Homo sapiens: one gene and its partner. The protein of the gene in region 1 interacts with the protein of each later gene in a pairwise test. Each region holds a gene or a part of one and is shown on either strand. Other genes may lie near its edges. The genes, in order: ZNF468 and AATF.

Region 1 (3,822 bases):
TATTTCTAATGAATTTGGGAAGTGGGAAATCCAAGAGCAAGGTGCCAGCCAAATTGCTTCCTGGTGAGAGCATTCTTCATGGTTTAGCCCAGCCATCTTCCTGCTGTGTCCTAATACGGTGGAAAGAGGAACAGGCAAGGACCTCTTTAATGTCCCTTTATAAATGCACTAGTCCTATTCACGAGTAGTCAACACCCATGACTAAATTCTCTCAATGTCTGCATCTGCAGGGACATCCTCTTAGAGAATACCACATCTACCAAAGCTTATTTGAGAAGTAGTTATTTATCTTATTTTATTTCTTTGAGACAAAGTCTCATCCTGTCACTGAGGCTGGAGTGCAGTGGCATGATCTCGTCTCACTGCAACCTCCGCCTCCTGGGTTCAAATGTTTCCTGCCTCAGATTCCCAAGTAGCTGGGATTACAGGCGTCTTCCTTCATGCCTGGCTGATTTTTTTGTAGTTTTAGTAGAGATGGTGTGTCGCCATGTTGTCCAGGCTGGTCTTCAACTCCTGACTTCATGATTCACCCACCTCAGCCTACCAAAATGCTGGGATTACAGGCATGTGCCACTGCACCCGGCCGCTAGTCAATTCTTGTTCCTGGTAAAGCTGTGTATTTTCTTGACCTCATATATCAGAAGGTAGTGATCTTAACATCTATTTCAGTTCTTACACTGTGTGCTGGTGATAAGTACAAGTTTTGGCTTTTTTCTTAAGAGGGAATTGTTTAGAATTCTTCAGTCTGTATAAATGTACTTATTATTTTCTTGCTTGTTTTATCATGGGTTGCAATATTTGATTAATTGATTTTTATGAATTTATATATGAGTGTTCGGTATGTGGTATGCAATATAACGGACACACTCCCCCCATTAATGTCAGAAAGTGCCACAGGGTGCAGTGGCTCACACCTGTAATCCCAGGACTTTTGGAGGCCAAGACATGTGGATCACCTGAGGTCAGGAGTTCGAGACCAGCCTGGCCAACATGGTGAAACCTGATTTCTACTAAAAATACAAAAATTAGCTGGGCATGGTGGCACATGCCTGTAATCCCAGGTGCTCAGGACCTAAGGCAAGAGACTAGCATGAACCCAGGAGGTGGAGGTTGCAGTGAGCCAAGATCGTGCCATCGCATTCCAGCCTGGGTGACAGAGTGAGACTCTATCTCAAAAAAACAAAAATACAAAAAATTTTTTAAAAAGTCACAACATAACTGTTCCACATGGATATAGGTAATTTTGTAACAGTTATTCAGAAAAATATGGTATTAACATTTTCTTTTTTTTTTTTTTTTTTTTTGAGACAGAGTCTCACTCTGTTGTCCAGGGTGGAGCAAAGTGACACAATCTCAACTCACCACAATCTTTGCCTCCCGAGTTCAAGCGATTATCATACCTCAGCCTCCCAAGGAGCTGGGATTACAGGTGCCTGTGACCATACCAGCTACTTTTTGTGTCTTTAGTAGCGACGGGGTTTCACCACATTGGCCAGGCTGGTTGAACTCCTGACCTGAGGTGATCCACCTTCCTCGGCCTCCGGAGTTACTGGGATTAGAGTCACAAGCCACCATGCCATGTCTTTTTTTTTTTTTTTTTTTTTTTTTTTGAGATGGAGTCTCATTTTGCACCAAGGCTGGAGTGGAGTGATGCAATCTTAGCTAACTGCAACCTTTGCCTTTTAGCTTAATGCAATACTTGTGACGCAGCCTCTGGAGTAGCTGGGAGTACAGGTGCTGGCCACCACACCTGGCTAATTTTTGTAATCTTCTGTTATCTTGTCAGTGCTGTGATTGTTTGACAATAGAGAATTTCCACTAATTTTGGTTATTCTTACAAGAGCTTGTTGTGGATTATTTACCAATATAGTATATTGTGTGGTTCTTTAGCATTTATTTGTATACCCTAAATACGCTGTAAATATGGAGAATATATATTTTTCTCTGATGTGACAGTGATATGTATTTTGCACAGTGTGACACACTTTAGGGTCACAGTGGAAAAACACTCCTTTCTTTAGACTCACACGTGTTTGTGCCCTGTCAGTGTTTTGTCATGATATTGGAAATAGGCTTCCATAGAAATGATTTGAAGCACATGTAATCGCCCTTTATTTATTAAAGAATCTTACTCCTTTTGTGTTCCTAAACTTTGAAGCTCACGTTTGGGAAGTTGAAAATAAGTATTGTTTTTTTTCTGTGATATTTACACATTTCAGTATTATATACCGTCTGTACTTAATTGGAAACCTATTGGTGTTTAAATTTTGTAGATATCTCTTCCAAATGCATGTTGAAGACGTTGTCGTCAACAGGGCAAGGCAATACAGAAGTGATCCACACAGGGACATTGCACAGACAAGCAAGTCATCACATTGGAGAATTTTGTTTCCATGAAATTGAGAAAGACATTCATGGCTTCGAGTTTCAGTGGAAAGAAGATGAAACAAATGGCCATGCAGCACCCATGACAGAAATCAAAGAGTTGGCTGGTAGTACAGGCCAACATGATCAAAGGCATGCTGGAAACAAGCGTATTAAAGATCAGCTTGGATCAAGCTTTCATTTGCATCTGCCTGAACCGCACATATTTCAGTCTGAAGGGAAAATTGGTAATCAAGTTGAGAAGTCTATCAACAATGCTTCCTCAGTTTCAACATCCCAAAGAATTTGTTGTAGGCCCAAAACCCATATTTCTAATAAGTATGGAAATAATTCCCTCCATTCTTCATTACTCACACAAAAATGGGAAGTACACATGAGAGAAAAATCTTTTGAATGTATACAGAGCTTCAAATCCTTTAATTGCAGCTCACTCTTAAAAAAACATCAGATAATTCACTTAGAAGAGAAACAATGTAAATGTGATGTATGTGGCAAGGTCTTTAATCAGAAGCGATACCTTGCCTGCCATCGTAGATGTCACACTGGTGAGAAACCTTACAAGTGTAATGAGTGTGGCAAGACCTTTGGTCATAATTCATCCCTCTTCATTCACAAAGCGCTTCATACTGGAGAGAAACCTTATGAATGTGAAGAATGTGACAAAGTTTTCAGTCGCAAATCACACCTTGAAAGACATAAGAGGATTCATACTGGAGAGAAACCATACAAATGTAAGGTTTGTGATGAGGCTTTCGCATATAATTCATATCTGGCAAAACATACTATACTTCACACTGGAGAGAAACCTTACACATGTAATGAATGTGGCAAAGTTTTTAATCGACTATCAACCCTTGCACGCCATCATAGACTTCATACTGGAGAGAAACCTTACAAATGTGAAGAGTGTGACAAAGTTTTCAGTCGCAAATCACACCTTGAAAGACATAGGAGGATTCATAGTGGAGAGAAACCTTACAAATGTGAAGAATGTTGCAAAGTTTTCAGTCGCAAATCAAACCTGGAAAGACACAGGAGGATTCATACTGGAGAGAAACCATACAAATGTAAGGTTTGTGACAAGGCTTTCCAGAGGGATTCACACCTGGCACAACATCAGAGAGTTCATACTGGAGAGAAACCTTACAAGTGTAATGAGTGTGGCAAGACCTTCGGTCAGACATCATCGCTTATAATCCATCGTAGGCTTCATACTGGAGAGAAACCTTACAAGTGTAATGAGTGTGGCAAGACCTTCAGTCAGATGTCATCCCTTGTATACCATCATAGGCTTCATAGTGGAGAGAAGCCTTAATAGTGTAATGAGTGTGGCAAGACCTTCCATCACAATTCAACCCTGTAAGTCATAAGGCAATTCATACTGGAGAGAAACCTTACAAGCATAATGAATGTGGCAAGGTTTTTAATCAAAAAGCA
Region 2 (3,822 bases), on another chromosome or scaffold:
TAAATAATATTCCTCCATGGATCCATGAACAAATGGAGGGAAAAGCCTCATCCATATCATTAAGGGATGCATTTCTAATAACATTTTACACATGTATGAATACTAAATTTTCACTAAAATTAGGATATATTATATCATATTATTATATATTGATTATATCCTAATAATAATCCAGAGGAACATTTTTAAACTACTTAGAGCCTTATAATGTCAAACAATTAAAATATTTTCATTTCAATTTTTTGAATTTTAAAAATTTCAAAAGTGCTTTTATTTACAGACTAATGTGGCCAAGAAGTATGATAAGGGTGATTGATAAAAGACATTCAAGCATGAAACCATTATATTAGGACAAAACTCTGTAGGGAAAAGTCAGGTGGAAATAAAATTTAAAAAGAAAAAGGTGCTATAAAATGTCCAAGTTAAAAAGTTTATGTGTGGCCCACGCCTGTAATCCCAGCACTTTGGGAGGCCAAGACGGGCAGATCATGAGGTCAAGAGATGGAGACCATCCTGGCCAACATGGTAAAACCCCGTCTCTACTAAAAATAAAAAATTAGCCGGGCGTGGTGGTGCGCACCTGCAGTCCCAATTACTTGGAAGGCTGAGGCAGGAGAATCGATTGAACCCGGGAGGCGGAGGTTGCAGTGAGCCGAGATTGCGCCACTGCACTCCAGCCTGGCGACAGAGCGAGACTCCATCTCAAAAAAAAATAGTTTATGTGTTACTTGAATGAACGATGAGTATCAAATCATTATGGCATGTAGGTTCCATTGCAGGCATTACAAAAGTTAATTTTCACAACATCCTGGTCATTATATATTTTGTAACTATTTAAACTTACTGTGAAAAACGTTATAAAAATGTGCAACCCTACCTTCTCCAACCTAGTAAAGAGGGAGGAAGGGCTGTGCCTCCCTGTACCACCCAGCTGCTCAGGGCAGGAGCCAAAGCCAGGACCTGGAAAGAGGAAGGGCTGAGGCCAAGCTGAACCGCTGGAATCTACAGTGGGGGTGGCTGGTGGGGGGCGTGTGGGGCGGGGATCTTCATCCCCATGCTGCTCCTGGGCCCCAGGGAGGGTCTGCTTTGTCTGTCTCAGAGAAGGGAGTGGAAGAGTCAGCCAGGAGGTTGTTGCTGTGTGCTTCATGAGAAACGGTGAGATCTGACCTAGTGGAAGCCTGGAGGAGCTGTGAAGTTTGAGATGCTTTGAAGGTAAAAACGGTCACCAGCTGGTGATAGTGGGTGAGGAAGATGTAAAAGTTGAAATTGCTTGGGGACTTTTAGATTGAAATAATCCCCTATTGATATTCTCTCTCTCTGAAAATATTTTAAGAACCCAGACCACTCAGCTTCCCAGGTTGCTTTGCCATGAACAGCTGCATATGTTTGTCAGCTTTGCCCACCTGAGTGTGAAATGATGTTCTATGAAAACATGGGTTTCAGCATTTCACTCTCTGCTCCTGACACGTGAACCCTGCTGCGGACAGTAACTGCTGCCTTCGGCCCAGGCGTTGCACTGATATTGCGCGCAGAGTGGAAGCATTTGCTCAGTGGTAATGATGGGGTCTGGTGCAGGCAAGCGCGGCGAGGCTGGAAAGGGTATGATGTGAAGGGCTAGCCTCGCGCCTCTGCATTTCTTTCTCATCAGACGTTGTTGTCCTAAAGTCACACTGTCCTTTTGTTATGGCAACTCTCCCTTTCACGCCATTTAATTTTTTGTGTGGAAACAGCTAGAGAGACTTGTCTTTACTGGCAAATAGGCAGGCCATGGTGTGATGAAGTGGAGCCTGCCCTGGGCACCGAAGTATCCGTGTGACGGAGCTGCTGATTTGGAAGCCGTGGGTTTGCATTTGGTCTGGGGCTGCCGTCCACCTTGGCAGGCTTCGTCTGGGCTGATTGAGGCTAGTCACATGGATGTGTGTAACAGAAGAGCAGAAGAGATGGGTGGAGCCAAGGGGGAAGCTGTGTCCTTTGTCTGTGGCCTAGGGGTCTGCTGGGTAGTTCAGGGTGAAGGCACCAGCACATTCTTGGGATAAAATTCCTGTAATAAAATTGGAGGCCTGTTGTTTTCTGGCCTGCACTTTCACTGCCTGTCCCTCCCGCGGTCCCCAACATGATAAGGCTAGCTTACATTTGTGGCTTCTGTAGTTCTTCCTTAAGATGTTTTTCTTTTGACTTTTTTAAAGCTTTGATACTCTATTCCTTTTGTTGGATTTCCTAATTGTAGTACCTTTATTCCTATCCATAACTATAGTAGGGTGACTTCAAAAAAAGACCAGTAGTTTTTTGTGTTGAAGCCTTGCTGTTTGAAAGGTGGGGTTTTTTGGTTTTGCTTTTAAAGTCTGATGTGCCGATGCTGACCCTCAGATGATGAGAGCACTTTTAAAACAAGACGGCAGGCTGGAATTTGAGTTCCATCTTGAGAATATCCGAGCAGGTGTAGATTTCTTCTGGGGCTCCTGGCCCATGACCTCAGCCCTGTGTGCGCCTGCCCTGTCTCTGTGAGGGCTACCGGCTGGGCCTTCTGCAGGGCGTGGACATGGATGGCTGCCTCTGCGGCCACGTGCTACACGCCCACCTCCCTGATGACAGGGACGTCCTCACACGGGTCTTGCCTGCTTGGAACCTCATGGGTCCCTCATGTCTCTGCAGGGAGGATCTGCTCTGTATCCACAGGGGAAAGTGTTCTGGAGCTTCTGTCTCAACGATAGGAAAGATCCCTGCCCCACCCACACCCCTTTTAGGTTTTCCAGGCCTTGACACATGGCTTTGGCCGATGTTTGTGTGTATGTTGCATTTAAAAGAGTTTGAAAGTGGTCATTTACTTTTCTTTTTAGGGGCCCAAGACCCTGGCATGTTATTGTTTTAATGTCAAAACCCAACTTTAGAAATAAATTAGCCAATCATATTATTTATTAGACTGAGAATAGAGACAGGGCAGCTGGGGAGTGTGGAAGAAGCTTGGTTCTCTTCCTGAACAACTGCACAGATGATAGTAATTGGAATCGTGTTGCTGGCTCATTTTCATTGTTTTTCAAGTACTGCCAAGTCCAAGAAAATGTATGAAAACTAAATTATATCCCCCTACATCCCATGTCTGATTGAATCCTCCTCATCGGATGGCGGTCTCCTACATCCTATTAAAATATTCAATCTTGTTTTCTTACTTGAAGAGCCTGTCTGCAAAGGGCAAACTTACAGAACACTCATTCCCTGGAGACGGGTGTCCAGCCGCACTGGACCATTTACATATTTTACTGTTTGATTGGGTTTCTTCCTTCTGTTGTATTTGTGAGTAAGAGCTGTGGGGTGCATTTTTAATTACATGGCTGTGTTTTCAACAGAAGAAACAGAATGGGGTATTTTCCAGCTTCTGCGTTCCTTTTTAACCTTGAATAGTGAACCAGTGTGTTAACCAGTTTGCTGTGTTTGTCTTTTAGGACAGAACTGTACCGCTCTCTTTTTGGCCAGCTCCACCCTCCCGACGAAGGCCACGGGGATTGACATCGCCCACCTCCGACACCCAGTGGGCGCCTTGGCTGGTGCGGCTGCTGGTCCAGATGGAGGAAACCAGTGACTTTATGGGGCTGAGCTAGTAGGGAAGCCCCTGGAAAGATGCTGCGTTCCGAACCTGTGCCTAATACACGCAAGGGCGCTGTCCCGCCCAACCCCGCCTTTAAACGCCACAAATAAAGAGCATTGTTACCGCCACCACCGCTTGTGATTTCTTAAGAGGCTGAGAGTCAGTCTGGTTTGGTTCTAGTGGATGACACATTTACTGAGCTTTTTTTTTTCTAGTCCAGTGGCCTCCTCATACAATGT

The links.
Region 2: the proteins of ZNF468 (region 1) and AATF interact in a two-hybrid assay, tested with the Homo sapiens proteins (one large-scale study listed by BioGRID and IntAct).

Annotation. Positions count from the first base shown.
Region 1 is NC_000019.10:52,840,603-52,844,424, reverse strand, and holds part of ZNF468 (zinc finger protein 468), read left to right. Parts: intron 1-2,273; coding exon 2,274-3,700; 3' UTR 3,701-3,822. UniProt on the Homo sapiens protein: May be involved in transcriptional regulation.
Region 2 is NC_000017.11:37,053,161-37,056,982, forward strand, and holds the end of AATF (protein AATF), read left to right. Parts: exon of another isoform or gene 1-2; intron 3-3,440; coding exon 3,441-3,504; 3' UTR 3,505-3,711; downstream 3,712-3,822. UniProt on the Homo sapiens protein: Part of the small subunit (SSU) processome, first precursor of the small eukaryotic ribosomal subunit.